Linked DNA regions of Homo sapiens. The protein of the gene in region 1 purifies or fractionates together with the protein of each later gene. This does not show direct contact. Each region holds a gene or a part of one and is shown in the gene's direction. Other genes may lie near its edges.

Evidence for each region. The genes of interacting proteins can lie anywhere in the genome.
Region 2: the proteins of KLRB1 (region 1) and ARL5B purify together in Homo sapiens (affinity purification with mass spectrometry; one large-scale study listed by BioGRID and IntAct). This does not show direct contact.
Region 3: the proteins of KLRB1 (region 1) and CDC45 purify together in Homo sapiens (affinity purification with mass spectrometry; one large-scale study listed by BioGRID and IntAct). This does not show direct contact.
Region 4: the proteins of KLRB1 (region 1) and ARL8B purify together in Homo sapiens (affinity purification with mass spectrometry; one large-scale study listed by BioGRID and IntAct). This does not show direct contact.

The regions. Positions count from the first base shown.
Region 1 is NC_000012.12:9,601,084-9,605,321, reverse strand, and holds part of KLRB1 (killer cell lectin-like receptor subfamily B member 1), read left to right. Parts: intron 1-3,722; coding exon 3,723-3,821; intron 3,822-4,238.
Region 2 is NC_000010.11:18,662,431-18,666,298, forward strand, and holds part of ARL5B (ADP-ribosylation factor-like protein 5B), read left to right. Parts: intron 1-3,868.
Region 3 is NC_000022.11:19,503,920-19,507,787, forward strand, and holds part of CDC45 (cell division control protein 45 homolog), read left to right. Parts: intron 1-1,442; coding exon 1,443-1,562; intron 1,563-3,466; coding exon 3,467-3,598; intron 3,599-3,846; coding exon 3,847-3,868. UniProt on the Homo sapiens protein: Required for initiation of chromosomal DNA replication. Core component of CDC45-MCM-GINS (CMG) helicase, the molecular machine that unwinds template DNA during replication, and around which the replisome is built.
Region 4 is NC_000003.12:5,174,292-5,178,159, forward strand, and holds part of ARL8B (ADP-ribosylation factor-like protein 8B), read left to right. Parts: intron 1-52; coding exon 53-123; intron 124-3,868. UniProt on the Homo sapiens protein: Small GTPase which cycles between active GTP-bound and inactive GDP-bound states.

The DNA.
Region 1 (4,238 bases):
TGCTATAAAGACACATGCACACGTATGTTTATTGCGGCAGCATTCACAATAGCAAAGACTTGGAACCAACCCAAATGTCCATCATTGATAGACTGGATTGAGAAAATGTGGCACATATACACCATGGAATACTGTGCAGCCATAAAAAAGGATGATTTCATGTCCTTTGTAGGGACATGGATGAGGCTGGAAACCATCATTCTGAGCAAACTATCACAAGGACAGAAAGCCAAACACCGCATATTCTCACTCATAGTGGGAATTGAACAATGAGAACACATGGACACAGGGCAGGGAACATCACACACCAGGGCCTGTTGTGGGGTGGGGGTAGGGAGAAGGGATAGCACTAGGAGAAATACCTAATGTAAATGACGAGTTAACGGGTGCAACAAACCAACATGGCACATGTATACATATGTAACAAACCTGCACATTGTGCCCATGTACCCTAGAACTTAAAGTATAATAAAAAATAAAAATTAAAAAAATGGAGGCACACCATCAATAAAATAAACAAATAACTAAGTCAGTATAAAAGATGAGACGGTGTTAATGTTATTGAGAAAGATTTGAATATAGGATTTAACTTTCGGGGAGGGTAGCATATCAAACAGAATAATCAAGGAAGGCCTCCCTGAGAAGATGACATTGAGTCAAAACCTGACAGAAGTGAGGGACAAAGACATAAGCCCCTGAGAGAGAAGCCTTCTAGGAAGGTGACCAACAAGTGCAAACACATCGAAATGAAAACACGCCTGTGGTATTGTAGGAGGCATCTGCGTGGAGAGTGAGCGTATGGAGGCCAGATGGGGTGAGGGCAAAATGTGAAACCACTATTGGACTCTGGCTAAACTGTTGAGGCTATGGTCACTCTGTAGCATGGTGATTGTGTCTAAGGCAGTCAACAAAACCAGAGAGATGTGAGTGATAACATCCAACAGAAGTGGGCGCCAGCTTAAATAGGGACATATGAGCCATTCTACAGACTCAGATTTGCCTGATGAAAAGCCATTGGAAGGTTTAGAATAATGAAATGAGATGATTTCACATACTTTTTAAACTCAAATGGAGAACAGCCATAGGTAGGTATTTCCAGATAGCTAACGTCCGCCGGACCCCTGTAGTGATTCATTGTAACTTCATTAATTCTAATGTCACGTGGTGCCACAGAAACACAGTACAGGAGTACATTCCTCCCAGACACAGTACACTCCACTCAACTCCTTACATTTTAGCATGAATGAATAACGATTTTTAAAAGTCACCAAGTTGCCTTTTACCTATAGTTAAAAAAAAAAAACAACTTTTAGAAAAAAAGAACTGCTGTTCATTGAACAGTTACCATGTGCCAGACACTGTGCCCAGCATTTAGAAGAATTGTTTCATATAATCCTCTCCAAAATATTATGACATAGATAATATTCCACATTTCACAGATGAGGAAATCTGTGGGTTATGAAGGTTGAACGTATTTTCCAAAATAACATGTTCACATTCAGATTTGCTAGATCGGAAAGACTGTTCTTAATCAATGTTAGCCTTTAGTAATGAAAATTACTAAATTCATGTTAGTAATAGAATTAGGCTGGGTGCGGTGGCTCACGTATGTAATCCCAGCACTTTGGGAGGCTGAGGCGGGTGGATCACCTGAGGTTGGGAGTTCGAGACCAGCCTGACCAACATGGAGAAACCCGTCTCTACTAAAAAAAAAAAAAAAAAATACAAAATTAGCCGGGCATGGTGGCGCATGCCTGTAATCCCAGCTACTCGGGAGGTTGAGGCAAGAGAATTGCTTGAACCTGGGAGGCGGAGGTTGCGGTGAGCTGAGATTGCACCATGAGCCTGGGCAACAAGAGTGAAACTCCGTCTCAAAAATAAATAAATAAATAAATAGAATTAAGTTAACACTTAAAATAGTGACTATACAGAGCTTTCTCCACTAGACAAACAAACTTAGAGTTTCAAGGAAGAAAACGGTGGGGAAGAGAAGAGACAGAAAGGTGAAATAACGTACATATATAAAACTGGAAGGAAAGCCATGCCAGTGCTGTCTTGGGCTTATTGACTGCATGTAGACATTCTTGTATCACACCAGCTCTCATTAGAAGTTCTAGGCCAATATTACCAAGCTTGGTTTCCTCACATTCAGATATATCCCTGGGGCCTTGGAGTCTCCTCTAGGTATCTACTCCTCCCTGCCCCCCTCCACTGATACAGCATGTCCTAAATAGTACCAGACGATAATCCATATGTTACAACCCTGACCCCAGTGTATTATGGTTCCTCCCATAATCTTTGATCACATCTAACGCTACTAAATTCTATCTCCTCAGGGCCGTTTTAGAGAGAGCTGATTCACTTATATCAGTGTGAGCATCCTAATGTGAGAGATTATCAGGTCTGCAAACTGGACTGCACAACTTAATCCTCAAGGATACTGTACCATTAAAAGTAGAAATGGCTTCATGGCCGTTCTGAAACATATAAAGAGACTAAAGGATAATATTATAGTATATCTGATGCTAAATTTTTTAACATGTAACTCATAGCAAGTAATCACTTACATGGAATAATATTAGAAAAAATAAAAAGGAATAGACAATACAAATAAATCAATAGCTTCAGATAAATTAGAAAGCCTTTATTCATAAAAGCTCCTAGCTCTAATAATAGAATTTATAAAGTAATTTATAATTATAATATATCTAATATGTTAAAAACCAAATGAGAGCAGAGGGAGACTTACAATTAAATCAGAGATAGGGGAGCTATTTAGGCACAACTTCTAGCAGTGTAACTGAGCAATATACTACCAGAATAATTCCTTATCAGAGTTGATTTAATTTTGGAAGCTATATCCCAGTGTTTCTCCAAAATATTTTTATAAATCTCTCTTTATTTTTTTTCTATTAATTCATGTTTTCAAAGATACAGAGCAAAATACATTGATAAAGTTGCGATTAATTTATAACATTTCATCAATATAATCATAACTTTTGAAGAACATGGGAGATTCATTATATAGTAATTGATGTGATTACAGAGAAAAGCAGAGATATCTGACACTTGGTTTAGACTATGCGATGTTGTAGACATAAGCGCATGTTATGTTATACTAGTGATAATATTGAAAAAGGTATGCAGTCACAAAACCTTATCCCTTGATGGCTTGGGATCCCAAGTTGGCTTAGACCCAACTTGGAGATGATTGTTCTAGACAACAGCAAAGCAGAGGATTCCATGTCCAAGAATAGAATTTCTGTATACCACCAGCACCTAACATGGTACTTGGCACAAAATAGAGAGAGCCTCAAAAAATATCTTGACTAAATGAAGGTCTTCCTTCTTGGACAAAATGCTTTGACTTACTTCATACATTAAGACATGCACTTAATTTTTGTATAGCACTTGGCAATTTTCAAAACATCTTTCTATCTATCTCATTTGGTTCTTACACCAATCCTTTGTATACACACATGCATAAGCGTTCATATTTTATCAATGAGCAAACTCTGTTGGATCTGAGAACCCATCTTGCAGGACTCTACTTTTAGAATGATGGATAGAGGTTGTTCCCTGCCCCCATCCCCCAAGCTGAATCTAATTGTCCCTATGTTATCCCAAGTACATTTTTGTGCCAGATGTACTCCACTGAGTTAACCAAGGTTTTTTGTTTCGTTTGTTTGTTTGTTTTTGTGTTTTTCTTTTTAACTTTTCAGATGTCTGTCAGGGTTCACCTTGGCATCAATTTGCCCTGAAACTTAGCTGTGCTGGGATTATTCTCCTTGTCTTGGTTGTTACTGGGTTGAGTGTTTCAGGTAAGTGGGGCACCATCATCTGTTTCATAATACTTACTCTACTTCCATTACGTATCTTAGAGCATCTCTGTAGGGGTGGGTTGCCCCTACACACCTGTGGGTGTTTCTCGTAAGGTGGGACGAGAGATTTGGAAAAGAAAAAGACACAGAGACAAAGTATAGAGAAAGAAATAAGGGGACCCGGGGAACCAGCGTTCAGCATATGGAGGATCCCGCCAGCCTCTGAGTTCCCTTAGTATTTATTGATCATTTGTGGGTGTTTCTCGAGAGGGGGATGTGTCAGGGTCACAAGACAATTGTGGGGAGAGGGTCAGCAGACAAACACGTGAACAAAGGTCTTTGCATCATAGACAATGTAAAGGATTAAGTGCTGTGCTTTTAGATATGCATACACATAAACATCTCAATGCTTTACAA
Region 2 (3,868 bases), on another chromosome or scaffold:
TCCTGCAATTTTGTATTGTTTGAACTGGAAGCCTGTTTACTTCGACAGTTATTATTCAAGGAAATAATTTGGAATTCTGATTATCTCTGCAAACATTTTATATGTTAATGTAGTTCTGTGAAATACATATGTGTTATGTGTGTTTGATAGCTCACCTCTAAAGTTTTGCATTGTTTTTTAAATTTCTTTTGAACTTTTGTAGGCATAGTCTTTTTCTCTCAGTGTTATGATTGTGGAAACCTGTCATCAGTTATTTCTTTTTTTGTTGTTTGTTTGTTTTTTTTTTTTAATGAGATGGAGTCTCACTCTGTCACCCAGGCTGGAGTGCAGTGGTGCGATCTCGGTCCACTGCAACCTCCATCTCCTGGGTTCAAGCAATTCTCCTGCCTCAGCCTCCTGAGTAGTTGGGATTACAGGCGCACACCACCACTCCGGCTAATTTTTGTATTTTTAGTAGAGGTGGGGTTTCACCATGTTGGTCAGGCTGGTTTTGAACTCCTGACCTCAGGTAATCCGCCCGCCTTGGCCTCCCAAAGTGCTAGGATTACAGACGTGAACCACTATGCCTGGCCCAGTGATGTCTTTAAATTTTATTTATTATTGTTATATTTTCTGTCACCCAGGCTGGAGTGTAGTCCTGTGATCTCAGCTCACTGCCACCTTTGCCTCCCAAGTTCAAGCAATTCTCCTGCCCCACCCTCTGGAGTAGATGGGATTACAAGCACCTGCCACCATGCCTGGCTAATTTTCGTATTTGTAGTAGAGATGGATTTTACCATGTTGGCTAGGCTGGCCTCGAACTCCTGACCTCAGGTGATCTACTCGCCTCCCAAAGTGCTGGGATTACAGGCGTGAGCCACTGCACCTGGCCAGTTATTTCTAGTGTTACCCAGAATTAAGAACAAATGAAATACAGTTTTAATTGTAGTTCTTTTTCAGAACCATGTAACAGTAACATCTTAATTTCATAATTTAATCATTTCTTTCCAATCCATGAATTTCATGTTATCATTTTGAACACTGGTTGCCAATTGCGTATGATTATTGTCCTTTACTTCTGACTGCTCAGATCTCAGATCTTGTGGCTCACATTTCTCTCTTTAGCTTATTCTGCTCTTTTTTTTTTTTTTTTTTTTGAGATGGAGTCTCTCTCTGTCGCCCAGGCTGGAGTGCAGTGGCGTTATCTCGGCTCACTGCAAGCTCTGCCTCCCGGGTTCATGCCATTCTCCTGCCTCAGCCTCCCAAGTAGCTGGGACTACAGGTGTCTGCCACCACGCCCGGCTGATTTTCTGTATTTTTAGTAGAGACGGGGTTTCACCATGTTAGCTAGGATGGTCTCGATCTCCTGACCTTGTGATCCTCCCACCTCGGCCTCCCAAAGTGCTGGGATTACAGGTGTGAGCTACTGCGCCCGGCCCCAGCTTATTCTGCTCTTAACTCTGGACTGTAAGCAGGTTTCAAACACACTAAACTTAAACTTATCATCTATCTGCATCCTGTCTTCCAGACCATTCTTTGTTTTTGTTTTGTTTTGTTTTGTTTGAGACGGAGTGTTGCTCTGTCACCAGGCTGGAGTGCAGTGGTGCAATCTCAGCTCACTGCCACCTCTGCCTCCCAGGTTCAAGTGATTCTCCTGCCTCAGCCTCCCAAGTAACTAGGACTATAGGCACCTGCCACCATGCCCGGCTAAGTTTTGTATTTTTAGTAGAGACGGAGTTTCACCAAATTAGCCAGGTTGGTCTTGAACTCCTGACCTTGTGGTCTGCCCACCTCAGCCTACTGAAGTGCTGGGATTACAGGTGTGAGCCACCATGCCTGACCTGGCTAACTTTTTTCTTAAGAGATGGGATATTACTGTATTGCCCAGTTTGGTCTCAAACTCCTAGATTTAACTGATCACTTCTCCTTGGCCTCCCAAAGTGTTGGAATTACAGGTGTGAGTCATTGCACCTGGCCTAAAACATTCTGATTTACTGTAACTGATAGTAACAGTAGTGTCTTTTTTTTTTTTTTTTTTTTTTTTTTGAGATGGAGTCTCGCTCTGTTGCCCAGGCTGGAGCACAGTGACCCGATCTCGGCTCACCGCAAGCTCCGTCTTCCGGGTTCATGCCATTCTTCTGCTTCAACCTCCCAAGTAGCTGGGACTACAGGCACCCGCCACCATGCCCGGCTAATTTTTTTGTATTTTTTGTAGAGACAGGGTTTCACCGTGTTAGCCAGGATGGTCTTGATCTCCTGACCTCGTGATCCTCCCACCTCGGCCTCCCAAAGTGCTAAGATTACAGGCGTAAGGCACCACGCCTGGCCTAACAGTAGTGTCTTAACCTAACATTTCCTCATGTTAGGGACCTACCTTTCAAAATGGTGCATTATTGGTGAGTTTTACCATCACAGGCCTTCAGTATTATGTGAAGCATCATAGTGCAAAAGTGAAGCAAGGAGCAGGATTGTTTGCAAATGACCTGGGTCTTCATTTGAGTTGCTTCAAGAAGGAGCCATCTGGTACTGTCCTTCCATTCCTTTCTCCCAACAGGATTATCTGCCTTCAAGTTTTGCTTATCTTTAAACTAGTGGCTTCCTTCTCACCACTGCAGGCATGTTGTTTTCTGTAGATGCTTGGTAGGTGGAGCTTCTAGCTGTCACCAAAATTTAGAATGCTTAGTGCCAGGCAGTCTGTTTGTTCCTCACTGATAAAGGTTCTTGTACTTTAAGGGATAACAAACAGGGTAATACTTAAAGATTAGCTTCATTAGAGGACATGTAGCCAAGCTTGGTGGTGTGCACCTGTGGTCCCAGCTATTCAGGAGGTTCAGGTAGGAGGATCACTTGAGCCTGGGAGGTCGAGGCTGCAGTGATCATGCCCCTGCACTCCAGCCTGGGCAACAAAGCAAGACCCTGTCTCAAATAAATAAGGAGAATTATAGTGAGTTATACTAAGCAGGCAAGTTTTGTTTTGTTTTACAAAGCAGCTTCTACCATAGTGAAAATAGCCCTTCCAGAGGACCGTGTCTGTTTATCCTGCACTGTAATAGGCTGTATCTAGAGTGTGTAGGTCATTGGAAGACCTGCACATCTCAAGAACTTAAATTTTCTTGGTCCCTCTTTTTTTGGCTGATGAAGTTTAGAACTTCAGAGTAGGAATATGAGCTGATAGTTGATTATATGACCAGAATGTTGACATTCACCAGAGGTCATCAAGAAGAGCGGGATTCTGATATGAGATGTGCCCAATCGTTGCCTACAAATCAACTGTGTTGTGATTCTGTGGAAACTTCCCTACTTACCCTGTTGATGTTAACTTGTAACTTTTTAAGCATTCTTCTGCCTTGGAGAAGGGGATCTTTAGTATACTTGGCATAAGTGAAAATCTAGGAAAGATGGTATCTGGGTTGTTTTCTGTATTCAAAGGACATTGCAGAATATATACCACTTAACGGAATAATTAGATGAGCTTTAGCAACTACTTATTAAAAGAGGTGAATATTTAGTGCATGGCACCCAAAGGAGGAAAGAACTGAAGAGATTTTCATTGTACAAAGAGCAGAAACAGAATCTGCTCAAAAGAACTGTAGAAGCCGGTTGAAAAAATGTTAAACAATGAGTAATTGTGTAAAAACTTGAGAGTATATGTTTGTCTTTGTGACACATGAAACGTTTCAATTTTAAGCTTACATGGGATTTTTAAGTGAGAGGAAGAAACAGATCCTGGTATACATAGGTGGGGAAACTTACAGATATGAAAACATTTTGATAAAAAGCTAACTTGATTGGTACAGAGCTAAAAAGGTGTGTAAAACAGGCTTTTTAAAAAACTTACATTTAGGTTATAATTTTTGCCTAGATTAATATTTGGGTCTCCTCTCCCCTA
Region 3 (3,868 bases), on another chromosome or scaffold:
TGCGAGCAGTCTATGCACCAAAGGTTGACATTGCCCTGTCAACAGGCAGGGCACGGGTGGCAGCCCATATAGTTCAATGGAACCCAGTGGCCGCTTGGGCTTTGGGCTTGTCTCTGGGTCCTTCCCACTGAACAGCGAAGGCGCACCAAGCCGCAGGCAAGCAAATGCCCACAAGGGGCTCGAGGCTAGACTCACCATAATGTGTTATAGGACCAGCAGGTTTGTATGCCTGCTGTGCAGTAACAGACTTGTTACACTGAGACAGCAGAGTTTGCAGCAGAGGAAGAGTTTCATGATTGCAGGGCACCGAGTGAGAAGATGGGAGGAGATCCTCAAATCCATCTCCTTGAGGAGTTCTGGGCTGGGCTTTTTTGGTTTTGTTTGTTTGTTTGTTTTTGAGATGGAGTTTTGCTCTTGTTGCCCAGGCTGCAGTGCAATGGCGCTGTCTCGGCTCATCGCAACCTCCGCCTCCCAGATTCAAGTGATTCTCCTGCCTCACCCTCCCAAGTAGCTGGGATTACCAGTATGCAGCAACACGCCCGGCTAATTTTGTATTTGTAATAGAGACGGGGTTTCTTCATGTTGGTCAGGCTGGTCTCAAATTCCTGCCCTCAGGTGATCTGCCCACCTTGGCCTCCCAAAGTGCTGGGATTACAGGCATGAGCCACTGTGCCCGGCCTGGGCTGGGGCTTTTAAGGGGACTGGAGGGTGAGGGGCTGGAAAATTGGGAGAGTTGATTGGTGGGGCAAGGGGGATGTAATCATCAGGGTGTACAAACTGCACTCTTGGTTTAGTCAGCTCCTCGTGGGGTCCTTCGGAGCAGCTCAGTCAGTAGCTCCATCAGTATACAGGACCCAAAGGAATATCTCAAAGGGAAAACAGCATTTCCTAAGGTTCAAGTTGTGATCTACGGAGCAGTTAGGGGAACTACAATCTTGTGACAGGGTCTACATGCTTCTGAGGCAATGAGACACCAAGCAGCTACGAGGAAGCAGTCAGAGAGCACGCCGACCTAGTGACTGATGCTGATGTGCTGCGAGCTGGGTTCATTTTCATTTCTCCCCTCCCCCTGCCCTCATTAATTTTGTAAAGTTTATAGGGAACATTTCACCCACTCTGCTGTGGATCCCTGTCACTTACGGAGTCTGTCATCTTGGCTGTATGGGCTGTGGCCTCTGCGGTGCCCATTCTCAGGAGGTGTGAGACCCATGAGGACCGGAGGTGGACAAGGCTAGAGACCACACCCCCCCGCTCCATCCAATCATGTTTTCCTGGGTGCTTGGTTTCTATGCAGGCTGCATGTCCTTAGTCCCTGCATGGGAACAGCTCCTGTGGTGAGCAGGCCCCTGAGGAAGGCCTTGAGCGGGAATGGAGCCTAGGCTTAGGCTGCCTGGTAAGAGCTGGAGGGAACCAGCCGAGGCTTGTGCTACTTTTTTTTCCAGAATGAAATACGTGACTGATGTTGGTGTCCTGCAGCGCCACGTTTCCCGCCACAACCACCGGAACGAGGATGAGGAGAACACACTCTCCGTGGACTGCACACGGATCTCCTTTGAGTATGAGTATCCTTGTGGCCCAGCCTGAGGGGCACAGGCAGCACCCCTGCTCAGCAGGCCTTGTTTGCTTTGTCACCCTCTGTGGGTTCTGGCCACATCCCCAGGAGGGAAAGCAGGTGGGGCAGGAAGTTTTGGGGGAAGGGGCTGTGGTGTGCTACCCCAGCTCATCTGTGTGGCTTTGGCTTCTAAATGCCAGAGCTGAGTTTGGAAGTATCACCCTTCTCCAGCACATCCCTGTAAAGTGCTTATTGTGGGCCTGGCTCTGGACATGGTAGCAGTGCGGGCAGTGGTTCACGCAGTCAGGAAAGAAGGCAGCTGCCATGTAATCACACAGCGTGACGTGTCTTTTGAGAAGCACATGGGACATTGGTGGAGTGCTCAGAAAAGACCATGGGGAGACCACATCTCACACAGTCTCAGCCACACTCAGTGTGGCAGCTGCTGTACTGAGCACAGGAGGGGCTGGGGGACTGGCTGGGGTCAGGTGTCAGGAGGCCAGAGCAAGCCTTGTGAGCCAAGGGCAGCGGGAGGCTGTGGAGTGACCAGAGTTTGAGTCAGGGTTTTTAAAAGGTCCCTTGGCTGCCCAGTAGAGGTAGGTTGGGGGCAAGGAGATGGTCACTGCTTTCCAAGGCCACACAATAGTGGCTTGGCCCAAACTGCAGCAGTGGCTGTAAGCAGTCAGATAGCATGATGTCAGGGACGGAGCTGCCCTGTCTCTGCACTGTGATGGCTGGGAAGGAGGAAGAGTGAGGGTGGACACGTCAGTAGTCAGGTGGCCATCGGAGCCTGGGGAGCGGGGTGGAGCTGGCTGAACTCCTGGGGAGGGGAGCCGCTGTGCACTGGAGCTGGTCCCATCATGTGCGTGGCAGGGTGGGCTCACTTACCCAGGGACCATGGGAGTGTGTGACTGAGACAGGAGGGAGGGAGTCAGGGAGCTGAGGATGCTGGGGCTTGAGGAAGCTGCTGGAGTGTGGGCAGGGAGCATGGTGGTCTGAAGGCCTGGGAGTTCCCAGGAGTTGGGAGGGGCAGTGGTGGGAACTGAGCATGCCGAGGAAGCAGGCAGGACCAGGCTCTCGTCCTGTAGAGGGGAAATCCACCGTGGGGGACAGTCCACACTCACAACTGCGCTCACGGTGCCAGGGGCAGTGATGGATATGTTTAAGAAAAGGGCTGAGGAGGTCGGGCGCTGTGGCTCACGCCTGTAATCCCAGCACTCTGGGAGGCCAAGGCAAGTGGATCATGAGGTCAGGAGATCGAGACCATCCTGGCTAACACGGTGAAACCTCGTTTCTACGAAAAATACAAAAAATCAGCCAGGCATGGTGGCGGGTGCCTATAGTCCCAGCTATTCGGGAGGCTGAGGCAGGAGAATGGCGTGAATCCAGAAGGTGGAGCTTGCAGCGAGCCGAGATCGTGCCACTGCACTCCAGCCTGGGCGACAGAGCGAGACTCCGTCTCAAAAAAAAAAAACGAAAAAAGGGCTGAGGATGGGGGCGCTTCGTGGATGGGGTCCCAGTGGAGGGCTCTCCGGAGGAATGGGTTGTAGGGAGGGCTGGGCTAGGTGGAGCAGGAGGTGCAGGACGACAAGCTGGTGACGCCCAGCCTCCTACGTCATGTGTGGCCATGACTGCTCCATGTGACCACAGCACCTGGACTTTGCAGACCCCTGTGCTCCAGATTCTCTGCCTGTCAGACGGATGGTGGTCTATGCCTGTCACTTCACAGGCTCTCTGTATGGGTCAGCTTAAGCTAAGAAGGTCAAAGGGCTCCAGGTCACTCTTGGGATACCTGGTTTTGCAGGCAGGCCTGGTGAGAAAGGGCCCCGCCATCAGAGTGGCCCACCTGCTGGAGTTACGAGAGTGCTCAGGGCGGCCAGTGGGTGCTTGCATGCTCCTTGACTGCAGGCCCAGCCTCCGCCTGGTGCTCTACCAGCACTGGTCCCTCCATGACAGCCTGTGCAACACCAGCTATACCGCAGCCAGGTTCAAGCTGTGGTCTGTGCATGGACAGAAGCGGCTCCAGGAGTTCCTTGCAGACATGGGGTGAGTGACTGCCTGGGCCTCTGCAGTGCCAGCCCTGGCCACCCCCAAGGGAAAAGCCCCTCTGCTTTGTTGTGACCAACTTAGTTATAAAATGCAGCCTGTTCTGCCATAAGCTCCTTGCCCTAGATCCCAGAATATCTTCTGAATGCTGGTGCGGGGACATCCTCGCTTGCCCTTGGTTTGGGTTTCTTTCCACCCTGTCGGTGTGTGGTGACCTCACTCATGTGGCTTGGGCTTGCTCTTTCCAGTCTTCCCCTGAAGCAGGTGAAG
Region 4 (3,868 bases), on another chromosome or scaffold:
AAGTATGACAGCTGTTCTAAGCACAGACTTATCCTTTTAATTCTTCTCATAGGAATCTGTCTGCTATTCAGGATAGAGAAATTTGCTGCTATTCAATTTCTTGCAAAGAAAAGGATAATATAGGTAAGAAATGACTGGTAATTTTGGAAGAAATGGGTATCATTGGAAGGAATGTCTATGCTTCTTACAGCTTATTGTCTCGATTTCTCATTAAGTGACTTCCTTTTCAGAATACTGTTGCTTTTGCCTGAGAAAAAAGAATAGACATACCTTTTGACAACAAATATAGTGAACCTTCACTTAACATCATTGATGGCTTCTTTGAAATTGCAATGTTATCTCTCTCTCTCTCATACAAATATATATATAATATAATATATGTAATATGTATTATATATTATATGTAATATATATGTAATATGTATTATATATTATATGTAATATATATGTAATATATAATATATATAAATATATATTATATATAACATAAATATATATATATAAATAATATTATATGTATATGTATTTTTTGAGACAGTGTCACTCCTTCACCCAGGCTTGAGTGCAGTGGCGTGATCTCGACTTACTGCAACCTCTGCCTCCTGGGTTAAAGCGATTCTTGTGCCTCAGCCTCCTGAGTAGCTGGGACTACAGACGTGCACCACCACGCCCGGCTAATTTTTGTATTTTCAGTAGCGACAGGGTTTCCATGTTGCCCAAGCTGGTCTTGAACTCCTGACCTCAAATGATCCAACTGCCTCGGCCCCCCAAAGTGTTGGGATTACAGGTGTGAGCCCGGCCTATATGTTATCAAACTCTTGAACAGCAAAAAATTTTTTAAAAAGAGGAAATTGCACTTTTAAGCGAAATGACATACAGTAGGCCCTCATTTCGTTCAGCGTTACAATGTTAATGAGAAAAAAATAGTTTTGTTATACACCATTTCACTTAAAGTGGCAGTTTCCAAGAACCTATCAGTGATGTTAAGTGAGGACTGAATGTATAACATCCTGAATCTTCTTTGTGCTATTTAAAGAAGAAAATGCAATAAAGTCGTGAGGTTAAGATTATGTGATACCAATTTATTGTGTTAATTTTTGCAGAGCTAGTATCCCGCTGTGCTTTATAACAAAATGGCATTTTTGAAATAAGACTTTACAAAAATTAGTCTACAGGCACTACAACAATTTTTCAGTTATTGAACCAGTATATTACTGCAATATGTTAGCACTCTATTGGAATTATATGCCCAAAATACCCTTCATTTACTCAATGCCCATATTAACTTCTTAGAACTGCCATAACAAAGTACCACAAACAAGGTGGCTTAGAACAGCAGAAACTTAAGTCATTCAAAATTCTAGAGGCTGGAAGTCCAAAATCAAGTTGTCAGCAGGGTCGTGTTCTCTCTGAAGGCTGTAGAAGATCCCTCCTTGCCTCTCTCTAGCTTGTGGTGGTTGCCAGCAATCCTTGGCATTCCTTCACTTGTAGATATACCACTCCAGTCTCTGCCTCACATTCATGCTTCTCCCCTGTAGTTGTCTCTGTGTCAGTGTATTATGTTTTCCTAAGGACGCAAGTCACTGGATTAGGTAGGGCCCACCTAATCCAGTATGACCTTATCTTAACTAATAACTTGCAGAGACCCTATTTCCAGTAAAAGTCACATTCTGAGGTTCTGGATGGACATGACTTTTTAGGGGGACATTAAACATTCTAGCATAGTATGGTTACAGAATAAGTATGTATGGCTCAACTTTAGTTTCTTAACTAATTTGGTTTGAGATGATTTGATAAATGAATGTATTGGAACAAAATGTAATAAATAGTACCAGAATAGTATATCTATAAAGTTTATGCTGATATTTTTTCTTTAGCTTTTGTATTCCAGTCTATCCTTCCCTAACTCACCTTCCACCCCGCCTGCAAACATGGCTTTATTTATTTTTATTTTTTTAAGATGGAGTCTCACTCTGTCGCCGTGGCTGGAGTGCAGTGGCAAGATCTTAGCTCACAGCAACCTCCACTTCCCGGGTTCAAGTGATTCTTGTGCCTCAGCCTCCTGAGTAGCTGGGATTACAGTTGCCCACTACCACGCCTGGCTAATTTTTGTATTTTTAGTAGAGACAGGGTTTCATCATGTTGGCCATGCTGGTCTTGAACTCCTGACCTCAGGTGATGCACCTGCCTCAGCCTCCCAAAGTGCTTAGATTGACAGGCATGAGCCACCACGCCCAGCCACAAATATGCTTTATTCAGTTTAAAGTGTGGATAGTCGTTCTGGCTAATTTTGGGCTTCCTTTAAAGACCATCCAGGGCAGTCTCAGCCTTAGTAACAGCGGATAGACACAAATTTTCCTTTATAAATGGATAGAATAATTCACTTGTTACATTGGGAGCATTTATTTGAGAACAGACTCCTCAAGCACTTGTGGTTACTTAGACTTTATTTAAAAGTTTTTTCTCTATGTGGCGGGGAAAACTCTTTTTAAAATTTAAGATATGCCCCATGAGAGCATTTATTTCTACATCAGTGGTTCTCAATGGGGAGCTTTTCCCCCAGGAGACTTGACAATGTCTGGAGACATTTTTGGTTGTCATAACTAGGAGGGTGATGCTGGCATTTAGTGGGTAGATACCAGAAATGTAGCTAAACATACTATAACCTCCACAGCAAAGAATTATCCAGCATAAAATGTCAGTTGTGGCAAGGTTGAGAAATCCTGTTCTACACTAACCGTAATTTTTAGTCCATTGTGCTATTTTGTAAATCCATTACTCCCTACATGTTTTCTGTTTTTCCATTGTTACAAACTAGTTGGATACTTCCTGAAAAAAAAACAAAATCTCTTGGGCTCATATATGGAAGTGCAGTAGAGCTGTGAGGACTTCTTTCGCTATTTGAGGCTGATCTTTATAGTTGGCTAAATAGCTCAGTAGTAATTTTAGAACTCCTGGCTCACTTAAAAGGTTGTCAAGCCCAAGGAATCTGATCCAGTCTAATAAGATCCACTCTAATAAAATTCGAAATAAGTATTTTGTAGATCAGTTCATCTGAGTATCTTATTTCTGTTGTCTTTTTGCCTATTCATAAAGATCCATTTGTCTTTAGGATATGAACTTCTATCAGTATCCACAGAGGCTTTGTGTAATTTTTTAGTGAATTTCTTTTTTTTTTTTTTTGAGATGGAGTTTCACTCTTGTGGCCCAGCTGGAGTGCAGTGGCGCAATTTTGGCTCACTGCAACCTCCGCCTCCTGGGTTCAAGTGATCTCCTGCCTCAGCCTCCCGAGTAGCTGGGATTACAGGCGCCCGCTGCCGTGCTCGGCTAATTTTTGTATTTTTAGTAGAGATGGGGTTTCACCATGTTGGCCAGGCTGGTCTCAAACTGCTGACCTCAGGTGATCACCTGCCTCGGCCTCCCAAAGTGTGGGATTACAGGTGTGAGCCACCGTGCCCGGCCATGAATTTCTTAAATATTTAAATTTGGTTATTTCACTTCAGATTTACCTTTCTCCCATTCAGTTCCAATGAGTGTGGCTTTGCTCGTATTGTGCACTGTTGTCCCCATTTTAAGGTGCAGAGGTGCTTCTTCAGTAGTTGGGTTAAATCATTGCTTCCACAATGGTGAACAGTTCATGTTTGTTATAGCTCAGCCCTGTGGTGTTTCGTTAATGCATGTTAGCTGGGAAACTGGTAGTGAATTTACCCTCATCTTTCAGGCTTGGAGAATAGAGTGGTGCTTCTGATAGACTCTCATGTACCCTTCTGAAGAAGTGAGGACAAGAATTACCCAGCCCCAGATGTCAAAAGGGCATGGTGTGAACCCTGCACCAGCCTTGGCAGTGACAGCCTCCTCTCCCATCCCT